Regions from separate parts of the Homo sapiens genome. Here region 1 is linked to region 2. Evidence: fine-mapped expression QTL. Tissue or cell type: whole blood. Region 2 holds a variant in brackets; the other region holds the start of a gene. All regions are shown on one strand. Distances are between the middles of the regions. Region 1 holds the start of MCFD2 (multiple coagulation factor deficiency 2, ER cargo receptor complex subunit). Region 2 overlaps TTC7A (tetratricopeptide repeat domain 7A).

What was found.
Region 1: MCFD2 starts here. The variant in region 2 is fine-mapped to the expression of MCFD2 in whole blood (TOPMed, PIP above 0.99).

What each region holds. Positions count from the first base shown.
Region 1 is chr2:46,911,303-46,919,801 of GRCh38, reverse strand. It overlaps MCFD2 (multiple coagulation factor deficiency 2, ER cargo receptor complex subunit), which reads left to right and starts at 3,996. Exons shown (of 4, transcript NM_139279.6): 1 at 3,996-4,079. It also overlaps a transcript of TTC7A not described here. RefSeq lists an enhancer at 2,952-3,926 and a silencer at 3,930-4,009.
Region 2 is chr2:46,948,283-46,956,282 of GRCh38, reverse strand. TTC7A (tetratricopeptide repeat domain 7A) reads right to left here. Exons shown (of 20, transcript NM_020458.4): 2 at 5,757-5,920. Among named protein-coding and RNA genes, the nearest start is that of TTC7A, 11 kb to the right of the region's middle. RefSeq lists a silencer at 859-1,153. The variant G/A (reference allele first, on the strand shown) is at 4,359.

The sequences.
Region 1 (8,499 bases), 37 kb after region 2:
TGTATTAAGTTCTCAGTTGGAGAATCTGGAAGCCGCACCCTTGTTTTTTCCTCTACTTGTGCAGAACGCACACCTTTTGCATCCTACTCCCTGTTAGAAGGAATTCCAGGGTTCAGAGATTACCACAGGGCCCAACAGCAAGAGACTGTTGTTAACCAGGCTTGAGATTTTAGGGACACAGGATTACCTCAATCATTTGTTAGACTTCTGATCAATTTCATGTATAGTAATCACAAATAACTTACCTAAAGTCTTATTTATTTATTTAGAGACAGAGTTTAGCTCTTGCTGCCCAGGCTGAAGAGCAATGGTGCGATCTCAGCTCACCTCAACCTCTGCTGCCCGGGTTCAAGCAATTCTCCTGCTTCAGCCTCCCGAGTATCTGGGATTACAAGCATGCGTCACCACACCCAGCTAATTTTGTATTTTTAGTAGAGACAGGGTTTCACCATGCTGGCCAGGCTGGTCTCGAACTCCTGACCTGAGGTGATTTGCCGCCTCGGCCTCCCAAAGTGCTGGGATTACAGGCGTGAGCCACCACACCCAGCCTATCTAGAGTCTTTAAATTGTTTTTATTCAATATTTTTCTATTTATTTTTCCAAATAAGTAATATGTAGTTTACAACATCAAAGCAATACTAAAAGGTGTAAATTGAAATCTTATTTTCACCCCTATTCTCATCCACTCTGGAATCCCCTACATAGGTAAAACATTGTCTTGAGACAATTCAAAACAGCTGAGGAAAGAGATGCCACCTAGAGGCCATTCTGGTATCTTGGGATGGCCGTCCTATCTCCTGATAAAGCCACCTCTCTGTCTCTACTTGTACTAGTTTCAACCTGAGTACACAAAGTAAATGGGGTATTTCAGCAAGGTTCCAAGTTATGAGACTCCTGGTTGCAGGTAAAGAGATCCTCTCTTACCTAGTCGTTACTTTCTTTAATCTCTGCTTTCAAATCAGTTATTTCCAACGTAGAGTTGCCCTTCTCTTGAAGGAGTCTGCTGAAAGCTACTAAAAAAGGCAACACTCACTAATGTTCCATATTGCTCGTGAGATTTCTCCAAAAATATAGCATTGGTTGGCATGTGGCCTATATCCAAGGTCCAGCAAGTGACAGTTTCACTACGGCTTATAAGGGTCACCAACTTTCCAGTTTGACATACAGTCTTTTAACACTGGCTACCTTAACCTCCAGTTAGCCAATTCCATATTTTAGTGTCTTGTTTTTAGCATCCTGCTTCTGGTACCAAATTATTTGCCTGTTAGGAATGGGTTCAGCTACAAGTTACAGAACACCCACCTATAAAATGGCTTAATCAAAGGTGGCTTCTCACTTATGGACTACAGTAGGGCAAGAATGGAAGCAGGACGGTCAGTTAGGAAGCTCTCTCTCAAGTAGTCCAGCAGCATCATCTACTACTGGACTAGATGGTTTAGTGGAGGTGGAAAGAAGTCAAAGACTCAGGATACATTTTGATAGCATCAACAGGCTTTGCTGAAGGATTTAAAGGTAAAGGGATGAGATAAATCAAAAACAGCTCGTAGAATTTTAGCTTGAACAACAGAATGAGTACCAGTGACATTTACTAAAATGCACAAGACTGAGAGAGGTGCAGGTTTGGGGGTGAAAATCAAGATTTTGGGGGGACACATTAAGTTTGAGATGCCAGTCTGACATTCATATGGAGACATCAAGTAGGCAGTTATTTACAGGAGCCAGGAATTACACAGAGAGGTCATTGTCAGAGAGACATATTTTGGAGTCATCTATTTATAAATGGTATCTAAAGCACAGGACTAGGTAAACTCACATAGGGAGGGTGGATAGAGAAGGTGACTCAGAACAGAACCCTGGACACTTTGATAATTATAGATTGAGAAGCCAATTAAGAAGCCCAAGAAAGGATAATGAGTGAGGTAGCAGAAGGACCCAGAGTGTGTGGTGTCAGAAAACAAGAGAAGAAAGTGTTTCTAAGTGAGAGTGGTTGGCTTTGATAAAACAGTGTTGAGAGGGCAAGTAAAATAAAAACAAGAGATCAAAGAGACCACTAGATTTGCATGGAGATTGCAGTTTCAGTGGTATGGTGGGGGAGAAAATACAGCAAGTTTATATGTTGATGGGAATTATCTGGTAGAGAGGGAGTGACTGTAGATTCAAGAGAGACATAACACAGGATAACATCCATAGGAAAAAAATGAAAGCACTGGCTAGAATGAGGACACTTTATCCATCTACCAGACACCAGCTTCTTGACACTTCATTTGTCTTATTTGTATCTCTAGTAGCTCCTAGTAGAGCGCCTAGTACATAGAAGATATTCAAGAAATGTTATTGAATGAATAAATGAACAAAGGGAGGGGTGGATGAATGGATGAAGAGATGGATGAATGGCAGATGCAGGGTAGAAGGAGGAACTAGATCAAACTAATCCAAAGTTCAGAGTAAGGAAAGAAGAATGGGTCTTGAATTAATAGGGTTTCCTCAAAACTTAGGGATTCTTTGTCCCGGCGCGGTGGCTCACCCCTGTAATCCCAGCACTTTGGGAGGCGGAGGTGGTGGGAGGATTGCTTGAACCCAGGAGTTCGAGACGAGCTGGGCACCATGGAGACTCTTTTCTTTAAAAAAAGAAAAAAAAATTAGGGATTATGGGATTTTTCTCTGGGATGGGGTGGCAGATTTCAATCTCAGATGAAGGTGGGAAAAGGAATGAGACCGTCAATGGCAGTGGCGTTAGGCAACTTTCAAGGCATCTAACTACTTAGCCACTTTCTTTGTCTTTCCTGTCCGGACCCAGGCTCATTTGAAAAACGATTATGTACCTTTATGGACAGAAATGGGAGAAGGGCTTTAAAAAAAACGACCGTCCTGCCGGGAGTGGTGGCTCACGCCTGTAATCCCAGCACTTTGGGAGGCTGAGGCGGGAGGATCAAGAGGTCAGCAGTTAGAGACCAGCCTGGCCAACACGGTGAAACCCCGTCTCTACTAAAAATACAAAAATTAGCCGGGCAAGGTGGCACGCGCCTGTAATCCCAGCTACTCGGGAGGCTGAGGTAGGAGAAGAGCTTGAACCTGGGAGGCGGAGGTTGCAGTGAGCCGAGATCCCACCACTGCACTCCAGCCTGGGACAGAGCGAGACTCCGTCTCAAAACAAAACAAAACAAAACAAAAAAACAAAACGACCGTCCTACACTCATTTATCCATCAGGTCAATGGATACTTACTGAATGTTAATCTTGTATAGGAGCACAGGTGTAAGGGCAGGATTATACAGGGATGAATTCGATACAGGGATGATGTATTCGTTTCCCTATTTGTTCATGAGTCTGTTTTTAAGTAATCTGTCCTCTCTTGAATGTCAAAAGCTGCTGATTTCACGAACGGTACATGGAAGATGGTATTTGAACTGGGTCGCATAGTCTTGCTGGGACTCCCGTGGAAGCGAACGGGGACAGCGGCTGCCGCAGCTTGTGCAGTGGAGCTGGCAGACGCTGGAAGCAGGCCAATCTTGAAACGTAGGGTCCAAGGCCGGCTCCAGCGTGTTGTGGTCGTTTCATCAAGAAGGAATTAGCATTCCTATTATCTTTCTTCCCAACTTGCAGCAGGACGAACCAAGAGACCTGAACCAAGAGCCCTGTATAGGAGGGGGTGAGCGGAGTTGGGAGCCAGCTTTGGGGTCCGCCCCATCCGGATCCGCCATCCTACGTCGCCCGTGGAACTACGTTCCTGAGGGCTTCCGGCGTTGCCTAGCAACTGCCGGGCCCCTAGGGCGTCCAGCGGCCCAACTGGAGTGGAGCCGAGTGTCGCCCTTGGGAAAGCAGGTAGAAGAACTGCGTCAGTCCCGCCAGTGCTGGGCCCGGGCCGATTACACGTGGACTCACGCGAGCCGTCCTCACAGCCCGCCGCCGCCAGCGGGAGGGGCCCGGCGGCGCCAATGGGCGGGCGGCAGGGAGCGCGCGTGCGCAGGGCAGGTCGGGGGGGGGGGGGGGGCGGGGCGAAGCCGAGGAAGAGCGTTTTGGGGACGGGGGCTGGTGAGGCTCACGTTGGAGGGCTTCGCGTCTGCTTCGGAGACCGTAAGGGTGAGTGAACTAGCGCACTCTCCGCAGCGGGCGGGATCCCGGCGCCTCTCCTGTGGGCTGGAGGCTTGGGCTCAAGATGAGAGGCAGGAGTAGTCTGGGGGCGCGGGCTGGGCCCCCAGGCCGTCTCGGGACGCTTAACCGGCTAGGAGCACGGCCTGTCTCCCGGGGCGGAAGCCTGTGCCCCACCGGGGGCTCTGGAGCCAGACGGGGCCGACTGGGCAGATCTCCGCCCCCTTCCCTGGTCCCTAGGGGCCCGAGGATCGGCCTGTGGGACCAGCTGTGTCGGGTGGACACTGCTCCTGGCCCGGCCCAAAAGCAGCGGGCCGGAAGCCTTACTCTCCCTCTGCTCCTTGTTCCCTCTCTCGGGGAGACCACAGGTCCTGTCGGGCCCGGCGGGGGAAGCTGATCTCCTGTTGTATTCCCTCTCTGGGCATGGCCATCCACCCGGGTGCCCAAGCCAGAATTGGGCATCATTCTCACTTGCTTCACTCCTTTACCCACCCACATCGAATCCCTTGCAAAGTTGTCTTGGATACGTTCATTCTCCAGTCCCATCCCCCTGCCCTACCTAGTTCAGGCCACCTTTTCTTCTCTGGACTACCTCGGTGTCTTCCTGATGATCCCTGCATCTCTTCTTCATCCTCTGTAGTTTGTTCTATACAGAGAGGCTACAGCCATGGTCTTAAAACAGAAATCTGATCATGTGACCAGAAGCGTCCCCCCATTCCCTTATCACCCTTTGGTGGATTCTCATTGCTCTTCCAAGCTCTTGAACGGGGCTTGCAAAGCCCTTCATGACCTGTCTTCCTTTAACTTTAGATTCATTTGTCTCGACTGTACTGTGTCTTCAACCATACTGAATCTTTTTTGGTTCTTAGATCAGAACAAGTTCCTTCTGGGCTTACATGTTCCTTCAGTATGTTCGCTATGTCTGAGGCACTGTCCTTTGGTTGAAATAATCCTTCTTATCCTTTATGTGTTATTTCAGGTGTCAGTTGGGGATTTCGTGGTACCCCATGGGTGTCTGCCTGCCGGTCTCTCTTTTCTACCAGGTTGTAATCTGTGTGAGAGGAGTTTGTCGAGGTCATAGTACTATCTTCAGTACCTTGTGCTGTTAGTACGGTCATTAAATGTATAAATGCAGCATGGGTGCTCCTTGGGCTCCCTAGATGAACAAATAGATCAAGTTATTAATATTAAATGCCTGCTTTTTCAGAACCAATTCTCAACCCTCAGTCCGTGTAGAGGTTTCTTTAGCTTAGGAAGTTGGTTATTTTCTTGCCTTCATTCCAGGACCATGACAGGGGTAAGTGACAAAGTACTGGTCAGTTTTTCTTTGGCATTGGCTGTGGGTACAGGATGTCTGGATGTTGGTGAGTTTGGCTGCTTTGGGTTTGAATTCTTAACCAAGGGCCCCTTGAGGGAGAAGCTGCTACTAGCTGCTGGCAGGAAGGCTGGCCCCAAACTTAGTGCTGATAGGACTGATGACACACCAGGAAGAAAGGGTTGGGCCAGGTCAAACCACTGGAAGCCTCCAAAGGAAGTTCCAGCTTAGGCTAGATCCGCTGTGGGATAGGGAACAATACACCTAGGTGCCAAGACTCACTTCCCTGATTCAGCGATGAGCCAGGTCAGCTCAGCAGAGATCAGTAAGGTAAATGAGAGCCAGAGGAGAGAGGGTCCTGACTCTCAGAGAGGGAGGAAAAGAGAAAAATGGAAAAGGAGAACAACCTGTGATCGTATGTTCAGGTCAAATGAGTGTGAGAGGCTACAGACTGAGGTCGGATGAGAGAGCAATTGGTCTTGGCTGGAAGAATCCTGAGGTGACATTTGAACCTGTCCTGGAAGGAAGTTGGAGATGGACAGATGGAACCAGTAGGAGCGGAGGCTGTGGTACAGGAAGAGGCTGGCAGAGCAGGAGGGGAGCACTGTGACAGCCAAGGCACTGGGAGGCGCACTGCTCCTGATGGTCCAGCACTGCCCTCCCAGGACTGAGGCTGCGCCTTGTGAGGGCTGTCTCAAGGTATGGGTTGTGCCCTGAAGTCCCTTTGCAGAAATTTCTCCTCCGTTGGGTTTTTCTTCAGCCTGGCCTTTATAATTTCCTAAAGAAGGCCAGTGAGCTGGGGCTTATCTTCAGGCTGTTAGCCCATGGCCTTGAGCTAAGTAGTTAGAGCATGGATGATGCAACCTGTTATTTGGGTAGAGGGAGTTGCTTATGCTTTCTCTTGACTGTCAGCAGTTTAATTTGTTAGGTGGCAGTTAGATTCCCTGTTTTCTATCTTTCCCTCCCTCGCCTGCCTTCTTTCCTTTCTTCCTCTCTCTCTCTCTCTTTTTCTAATTAGAGAGGGAGTCTCACCATGTTGTCCAGGCTGGTCTTGAACTCCTGGGCTCAAGTGATTCACTTGCCTCAGCCTCTCAAAGTATTGAGATTACAGGCATAAGCCACCATGCCCAGCCCGATTCCCTGTTTTCAGTGTACCACTTGGAGGAATTTTTTTTCTTTATGTTTATCGATTTGGCTTTTGTTGCATTCCAATGATTAGAAACCTGCAACAGCAAACCAAAATGAGACAAGTTCAAAATCAGTGATTCTTGGCCTTTATCCCACCTCCCTTAAAGAAGGGATATTTTGGACTCATAGTTACTACATGATTAATCACTTGGTTGCTTTTTGGTGTTATCTAAATAGAATTTCCCCCACCCCCAACACACACACACCAAATTGATATACTAAGCATCCAATCACATAGTTGGAGGAAATGGTGCCATGAGTTCCATGATAGATATCTCCAAAAGAAAAGTTTCATCTTCAGTTACAGTGACATTAAAAATTGGCAGCATATCTGCAAAGGTGGTAATCCCCCCAGCTCCCCAAGGACCATGGCACACAGGCTAAGAACCAGCAGCTTCTGTTCCAGGCACTGTGCCTGATACTGGGAATGTGGATTCAGTCCAAGTCCTCTTAAAGCCCATCCAGCAAGGGGCACTGACAAGTAATCAGGCAGTTTTTCAAGAATTCATTCACACACAAGAAAACAAAAGAAAAAAAAGAATTAATTTGCAGCTGTCATCAGCTGTGGACGGGAGCCTTCTGAAGGGAAGCACTTGGGAGCCTGCAGGACGAATACCTACACCAGACTTGGAATTGAAAAGACCTCACTGGAGAAAGAGACATTTGATGTAAATGAGTCTGAAAGGCTTGGGAGGAGCTTGATTCCCTTCTCTGATCCTTCCTGTCCCAGAACTCTAAGATGTGTGGTCAGAACAAGTTGTTCTGCTATGGCCTAGGCAGTCACTGCTAGGAGTAACCTGAAACCTTGTTTTGTGGTACCAGGTACAGTGGCAGTGGCCTTGTCAGGGTCTGGACACGTTTAAAAAATTTTTTTGAGACAGTCTCACTCTCTTGCCCAGGCTGGAGTGCAGTGGTGTGATCTTGGCTCACTGCAATCTCTGCCTCCCGGGTTCAAGCAATTCTTGTGCCTCAGCCTCCCAAATAGCTGGGATTACAGGTGCACGCCACCATGCCCAGCAAATTTTTTTTTGTATTTTTAGTAGAGACGCATTTTGCCACATTGGCCAGGCTGGTCTCAAACTCCTGACCTCAAGTGATCCACTTGCCTCGGCCTCCCGAAGTGTTGGGATCATAGATGTGAGCCACTGTCCCTGGCCAAGGTCTGGGCACTTTTATTTGGTAAAATTGGAAGTGTAGTTTCTGACTGTTTCTGAATTATTTTGTGGAGATAAGAATTAACCGGAAACTCCTTTTGTATCCGATCCATATAGTATTGGGACAAAATTATGGGATAGATTACATTGAATACATATTCATAAAAAATGGTAGCAGATCTCGGCTCACTGCAGGCTCCACCTCCGGGTTCATGCCATTCTCCTGCCGCAGCCTCCCAAGTAGCTGGGACTACAGGTGCCCGCCACCACGCCTGGCTAATTTTTATTTTTGTATTTTTAGTAGAAACGGGATTTCACCGTGTTAGCCAGGGTGGTCTCGATCTCCTGACCTCGTGATCTGCCCGCCTCGGCCTCCCAAAGTGCTGGGATTACAGGCACGAGCCACCATGCCGGCTGAAAATCACAATTCTAATCTCATGTCTCAAGATAATCTTTGTTATTAGTTTGTGTAGGAAATACACATTTTTATTTTACAAAAGTGTATTATTCTTTATTGCTTTTTTGCAGCCTGTTCTTTTTCATTCAATATATATTGAGCATTCTTTCCTATTAAGTATGACATATTGCTTTTTTTTTTTTTTAAACTACAGATATAAAAGGTCTGAGGTGGCCGGGCACGGTGGCTCATGCCTGTAACCCCAGCACTTTGGGAGGCCGAGGCGGGTGGATCACCTGAGGTCTGGAGTTCGAGATCAGCCTGGCCAAGATGGTGAAACCCTGTCTCTACTAAAAA
Region 2 (8,000 bases):
GTCACCATCCTCTTCCTATCAGAAATGGGTCAAAGTGCAGAATCACGGAGGCCAAGAGTGGCTGAATTTAAACGTGTTTTCTTTCCCCTCCTTTTTCAAAAGTTGCTTACATCTCAATCTCCATCCCACAGAGGAACTCTCAGGGCCTCCCTTAGGGCCTGCAGTGGTCTTGTCAGCCATGATCACCCCTACTGTGGCTTGGGATCCTGTGCTGTTGCCTGAGGGAGGCTGTGCTGGCCCTGGGCTGTGCCACCCTGGCACGTGAGTTCTGACCTTGGACATGGCCCCAGTTCTCCTTGTAACCTCCCGCCTCTGCAGGCCATTTGCTCTGGCCCCCTGCCTCTGATCCTGTCCTCAGCTGGCTCACAATGCCTATGGGCCAGGCCCTGGGCACTGCTCCCGCCACACAGGCACCAATCTGTCCATAAAACTCCCCGAAGATGCAGCTCTCATCCCACACCTGGCATTTGTCACTGGCAGGAAGGTGCTACCCCTGTCTCCCTGTAGGGAGGTAAGAGTCTGGGGTCCCTGTGACCCCAGGGCAAGCCTCCAGCACTCCTTACCATCTACTGCCCTCTCAGAAGCCAAGAGAAATGAAGCGTGGCACAGACAGGCTCTGGGGAAGCCAAATTCACCTTCCCAACTGGTCCTTCTGGCCTTTGTAAATCCACATTCCTCTTTTGCCTGTGCTTCCTCAGGTCCCCTTCCCCCTGGCCTAACCAGGTCCTCTTCTATCCTTTGGGGCCTTGCTCAGGCCCACCTTCTCCTGAAAGCCTCCTTGACTACCAGGGAGCTCCCTTCAGCTGAACTCCTCCAATGCCTCTACCAATGGGCCCATTCAGCCTCTGCACGCCTGACCTGCTCTCTCTATTAATTAACTCTCCAAAGCTGAATCTTTTGAGGGGATTTGCTAGTCTTCCCAGATAGGCCATCCACTCCCTGGGCCAGGGCCACAGATGACACATCCCAGAGGTATGTGGCCCACAGTCCTTCCAAGCTGGGCAGTGACTCTGCGTTCCCTGCACTGGTCTCAAGCCACGGGCTCATTTCCTCCCTGCTCGGGCTGCGTCTTCCTCGTGGGTGAGGGAGAGATAATAACACCTACTCCTCACTGCCTATCACAGCGATGCTGAAGGCATTAATAGGGCAAAGTCCAGAAAAGAGCTTTGAACTTTTCTTTGGAAAAGAGCAAGATAAATACAGGGTATGCGTATTTATCATTATCCTGCACATGGAGACAAGGGCAGTGAGGCAGAGAAGGACATTTCAGGCATGCTGATGGGGTGTGGCTAGTGGCGGTTCCTGGAGGACCAGTGGCAGTTTACAACAGAGCTTCCACCAAGCTGGGGAAAAATTAGACAATGCAGGGCATGTTTTATAAAGCCACATTTACACTATTTAAAAAAATGCTCGGCCGGGTACGGTGGCTCACGCCTGTAATCCCAGCACTTTGGGAGGTCGAGGCAGGCAGATCACCTAAGATCAGGAATTTGAGACCAGCCTGGACAACATGGTAAAACCCGTCTCTACTAAAAATACAAAAATTATCCGGGCGTGGTGGTGGGCGCCTGTAATCCTAGCTACTTGGGAGGCTGAGGCAGAAGAATCGCTTGAACCCGGGAGGCGGAGGTTGCAGTGAGCCAAGATCGTGCCACTGTACTCCAGCCTGGGTGACAGAGCGAGACTCCGTTGTCTCAAAAAAAAAAAAAAAAAAAAGGCTCTTAGTTCTGAAAGGATATCTACCTTGCCCTTTCAATGCTAAACTGTTTTTCTGTTATAGCACAGTAAGAGCAGAAGATGGTATCATTTTGCTGCTATTTTTTGCTTCTTAATGTCCTTACTTGGCAACATTAAGAGTCCACTGCACTCTGTGGGGCCCATGCATTTGAATGTGAAATATTCTTGGTCTATCAGTACAACAGTCAGGGAACGGAACCCCTTGCCCAGTGGGAGGGTGCCACGGGGGAGGTCGCTTTACCAGAGGAACAATCCCCTCTACTGTGTGGATCAGCGCATCACCTACTCCTTTTGTGCCTCACTGTCCCTGTCAATAAAAGGGGAAAAAGGACTTCATGGAGATATCCAGGTATGAGGAAAGAACGGATGAGGAAATACTTCACAGACTAACGTGGGAACTATAAAAGTGGGGGTGTGATCACCATCTTTCACATGAATCCAACTTTCCCAGTCATTATTTTATTTCCACCCCAGTACTCTGGGAGGCAGTACCAAGAAATGAGAGACAGCATTAGAGCATGGGCTGTAGACACTAAAGGCCTGGGTTGTGATCACCTTTCTTGGGTCTCAAGAGATGGAGCTTGGCAGGGCACAGTGGCTCACACCTGTAATCCCAGCACTTTGGGAGACCAAGGCAAGAGGATCGCTTGAAACCCAGAATCTGAGACCAGCCTGAGAAACACAGTAAGAACTGTGTCTCTACAAAAAATTGAAAAAAAAAAAAAAGAAAGAAAGAAAGAAAAAGAAATGGGGCTAATAGTAAATACCGTTGCAGAAGGTTCCTTGGAGGCCTGCATGCGATGGTGCAAAGCCTCAACCTAGTAGCAGAACAGAGTTTAGGACAAGTGGCTTGTTTTCACTGATCTCCACACAACTGAGCTGGACGGGGTCTTAGAGAGATAACCAAGAGGAAAGGGTTTCAAGCTTTCCCAAGGAGGGGCCTCAGGACCCACCTCTCCCAGCTCTCCTTCTCATCCAGCAGAGCTACTTGGATGCACAGGAATCCACCTGAGACTGCATCAGCTGCCAAGAAAGGTCACGCCAACTGTGACCTGATCTTTGCGGGTGAGATAGAAAATACTACAAATGATGGCCGGGCATGGTGGCTCACGCCTGTAATCCTAGCACTTTGGGAGGCACAGGTGACAGGACTGCTTGATCCCAGGAGTTTAAGACCAGCCTGAGCAATATGACAAGACTTTGTCTCTACAAAAAAATTTAAAAATTAGCTGGGTGTGGTGGTGCATGCCTATAGTCCCAGCTACTCAGGAGGCTGAAGCAGGATGATCACTTGAGCCCAGGAGGTCCAGTCTGCAGTGAGCCATGTTCACGCCACTGCACTCCAGCCTGGGTGACAGAGTGAGACCCTGTCTCAAAAAAGAATCCCACAAACGACATTTAATATATTATTTTACAGATCATCATTAAGTTTTTGGCTCTGGCCTGGATAACAGTAAATTTCTGCACATTATTGGTGCCTATATATGTCTTTGTTTAACAAAATATGGTACAATTTGTATTTAATAAAACCGTTGTCACAATACATGTGGTTACTATTCAGCCAATACAAAGAATGAGACAATACTGGCATGGAGAAAGCTCTAAATAAAACTTCTTGGTGAAAAATATATATCTTACAACTCTATGAAAAGAAATATCTGTGTGTATATATGTTTGTAAATGCACAAAGAAAGGCATAGGAGATGCACATCAAATACTGACCAGTGCTCAACTCTGAGGATGGGTGTGGGCATGAGGGTGAGGTTGGAAAACAAGAACTTTTTTTGTGTGTGTGAGACAGGATCTTGCTCTGTCACCCAGGCTGGAGTGCAGTGGCATGAACACAACTCACTGCAGCCCCAACCTCCTAGGCTCAAGTGACCCTCCAGCCGCAGCTTCTTGGGTAGCTGGGACCACAGGTGCAAGCCACCACGCCTAGCTAATTAAAAAAATTTTCTGTAGAGATGGGGTCTCACCATGTTGCCCAGTCTGATCTCAAACTTCTGGCTCAAGCAATCCTCCCACCTTAGCCTCCCAAAGTGCTAAGACTACAGGCGTGAGCCATAGGCCAGCTGGGACTTTTATTTATCACTCAAATTACTTATTTGTTGACTGGAATTTTTACAATAAGGCTGAATCATGTTTATTTTAAAAACAATTTTTAAATATTTAATTTAACATTTAATTATTAATTTAATATTTTTAAAACGAAAAGCGGTCTTGGTGGGAAAAGCTTGAACCCCACCAATCTGGTCCAACCCTTTTGACCAGCAGATGAGAAACTGGAAGGTCTGTGGGGTCAAGCATGCTCAGGGTCAGGCAGCTATTTTAACCCAATACAAACCTCCCAGTGCTACAATACCTGTCAAGGAGCCTAAAAGCAGTAACCTTAAACTTCTAGTACACACTCCCCTCTCCCCTGGCCTTTCCCTCCCTTACAAAATAAGCCCTGCACATCCTGGCCTGGTGTTCCAGTCTGCCCTTACTAGCCCCAAAGTACCTTTACAACCTTGTCTAGATCCAGCCCCAGAAGGATCCAATTCTAGTACTGCCATTACTCAGAGTCTGCTCTCTGCTTATCCCCAAAGAGCATCCCCCTCAGACTTGCTTCCTCGTGGATA[G/A]CACTCCTATCACGGTCTACCTTGGAGGAAGGCTATTTACTTGCTGATAGGACTTATCTTCCCAAGAGACCTGCAACCTCCTTGAGGGCAGGGTCCATGCTGGATTCGTCTTGATTGCCTTCAGAGTGCACAACACAATGCCTTGCACACAGTACGTTGGAATAAAAGGTTTAAGGAAGTGAATATATTACTTTGGAATAGCTCTTTAAAAATCAGCTGGGCGCAGTGCCTCACTCCTGTAATCCCAACGCTTCGGGAGGCTGAAGTAGGAGGATCGCTTGAGCCCAGGAGTTGGAGACCAGCCTGAGTAACACAGCGAGACCCTGAAGAAAATAAAGACAGACAGAAAGACAGAAAGAAAGAGAGAGACAGAGGGGAAGGAAGCAAGGAAGGAAGGGAGGGAGGGAGGGATCACTTCCTCTTTGAGTTTTTTTTTACCCCCTCCCCCTCCTCTTTTGAGTTTCTAATGACATACCCATGCCACTATTATAGTTCAGGATACATTGTAATCTAACACAGCCACAGCCTCAAACTTGGATGCACATATGAATCACCCAGGAGAGCTTGTTAAAACACAGATTCTAATTCTTAATTGCATTTCTTTTTTTTTTTCTCTTAATTGCATTTCTAACCAGCTCCCCAATGATGCCTACACTGCTGGTGGGTGGACCACATTTTGAGCAGCAAAGTCCAGAGAAAGTTGTGACCATACTCCTTCTGGGAGGGAGAGGTGGGTCCTCTACCTCCCTCAGTGTCTTGTACTCAGTAGGTGCTTGATAAATACACGTGGACTTAAATGGGCTTGCCCTGTTATGGAGCTCTTCTGTCCCTAGCCAACTCTGCATGTTTGCCTGTTTCTAACTAGGTCACAGGTTCACTGAGGTTTTATTTTCCTGAGAGCCCCCTGACCCAAGGAGCCCAAAGGGCCAGGCACATATTAAGTCAACCAAGCACTGTCCAAAAAAATATGATGTAAGCCACAAATGTGAACCACATGTGTAATTTAAAAATTTCTACTAAGATTTTTTTTAGTCACACTGAAAAAGGTAAAAGGTGAAATTAATTTTAATAACATGTTTTATTTAACCCAATATATCCAAAATATACCATCTGAACATGTAATCAACATAAAAAGTTACTGCTCTTTTCTATTCTTTGTTTTGTACTAAGTCTTTGAAACCTTGTGTATGCTTTATACTTACAGCACATCTCAATGTGGACTAGCCATACTCCAAGTGCTCAAGGGGCCATGTGCAGCCAGTGGCTACTGTAAGTGCAAGGGCAGCTTGTAAGAGAGACTTGTTGCTCAGGTGACCAAATGACTCAGGGAGGACTGGACAGATGCGAGGCAAGACAGACGAGGAGAGGAGGTCTCAGGCTTGAAGGCTGACGACTTACCGAGAGCCTCCCATGGTTAAGGATACTGCTTAGATAATTTTTGGCTTCGCTCATCTTCGGCTCATTCTTCTCCAGCAAAGGCATGGAGTCTTTTATTTTGGCATGGTTCTCCTTCAAACACTGCTCCAGGAGGGCCTCAGCCAGCAGCAATTTCCCAAAGTCATCTGAAAAGCAAAGTAGGGGTCAGAGCAGCAAACCCCGAACAAGGCGGATAATGGAGGGAGTTGCACACTCCTGGACCCACCCAACCACCCATACCCAGTACATGAATGGCTCAGGTCTGAGAAAATAAAGGCACATTTTTCATAAATTTCAACAGCCTTTAAAGAAAAGACACAGGCATTCTACTATGGTCACAATACAAATTGCCCCTTGGATTTATTTTCTGCTGTAGTTTAATGGTTGGGAAGACAGAGTTCCCAGGACTCGGGGACAAATTCCCAGAATTTCAGAATTTAAAATAAGGGACAAAGTCATACATATGCTGTGCTGTGGATAATAAGTTCTTAAACCAAGAAGAATTCTCCCCAAATGATTGAAGAGAAAAAATACATGAAGTGGTTTAATAATGTACTTTTACATGCTCCTAATTTCTATGTAACCATAATTGGTTTTCCCCATTTTTAAGTGTTTTTGTTTGTTTGTTTGTTTTAAACAGAGTCTCACTCTGCCACCCTAGCTGGAGTGCACTGGCATGATCATGGCACTCCCAGGCTCAAGTGACCCTCCTGACTCAGCCTCCCAAAGTGCTGGGATTACAGGCATCAGCCACCATACCATCCAGTTTTTAAGGTAATTTGACATGACTCAGGATAACCTAGCAGCCACAGTAGAGTTAGGTGGGAAGCAGATCTACTTGTTGCCAAGGCAAATCCTCGAACATGTTGAATACCTGCATTTTCTGGAGTTCTCTCACATATAGGGTATACCCGCAAATGAGGGTAGCTCATTTGCATCCCTCACCACCTGGTAGGTGGTTTTATACTGCTTGGTTTAGTGAGCGCAGTGGCTCACACCTGTAATCCCAGCACTTTGGGAGCCCAAGGCAGGCAGATCACTTGAGGTCAGGAGTTTGAGACCAGCCTGGCCAACATGGCAAAACTCTGTCTCCACTAAAAATGCAAAAATTAGCCAGGCATGATGATGGGCACCTGTAATCCCAGCTACTCGGGAAGCTGAGGCAGAACTGCCTGAATTCGGGAGACGGAGGTTGCAGTGAGCCGAGATCACACCACTGCACTCCAGCCTGGGCAACAAAGTGAGATTCTGTCTCAAAAAATAAAAATAAAGATAATATACTGCTTGGTTTATTTGCTGCCTCCCTTTACCACACTGAAAACTCGTCTTGTGACCACCAGATTCCTGCTACCTACAGCAGAGGTGGCTCGAGCATGGGAGCCGGGTGTTCAGTGTGCAGGGTCTGAGGTCAAGATGGTTTCACCATGGTTCTTGGGTGGCTGTGCTCATTGCCCCTCCCAGCAACTGGGGTGAGGAGCAGGCCCACCATTCAATATAAGCACTGAGTAAATACCTGTTGAGTGAATTGGATCCTCTCAACTACCCCACAGCGAAGCCATCAGGATCGAGAGTTAAGTGCCAATCCAAAAACATCCCTAGGAATGCCTGCTTGGTGCCATCTTTTTCAAAGTGCTCTTTTTGCTACCAGTACAGTGTTCTCAGATCTACAGGGCTGCCATTGCCTCCTCACTCTCAGGATACCACAGTCTGCTAACATCTCATAGCCACTAGTCCAAAACTGCATGCCTTAGCTGGGCACAGTAGTGCAAGCCTGTAGTCCCAGCTTCTTGGGAGGCTGAGGTGGAAGAATTGCTCAAGCCCAGGAGTTCAAGACCAGCCTGGGCAACATAGGGAGACCTCGTCTTTAGAAAAACACAAAAAACTTCATGCCTCTGAAGAAGAATCTCTCACCGTAAGGGAGATTCCCCACAGAGAACGGTTCTAAAGCCCAGAATCCCAAGAACACCATCGCAGGGGGGTTTCGTTCTGAAGGCACCTGTTATGGGATCCTTTGCTATGTACCTCATGACTTTTAAAATTAACATTTTAAGGAAATGGTCAAAAAAGTACCTGGTTCAAACTATCATTCATTGCTGGCAGACTATAAGTTGGTAGAACCTCTAGGGTAATTTGGCAACGTACATCAAAATTATTTTTGAACATCCCCATAGATCCAGTCAGTCAGAGCCACATTCCAGAGCTGTGGGCCTTGGGGAAAGTTGCTCC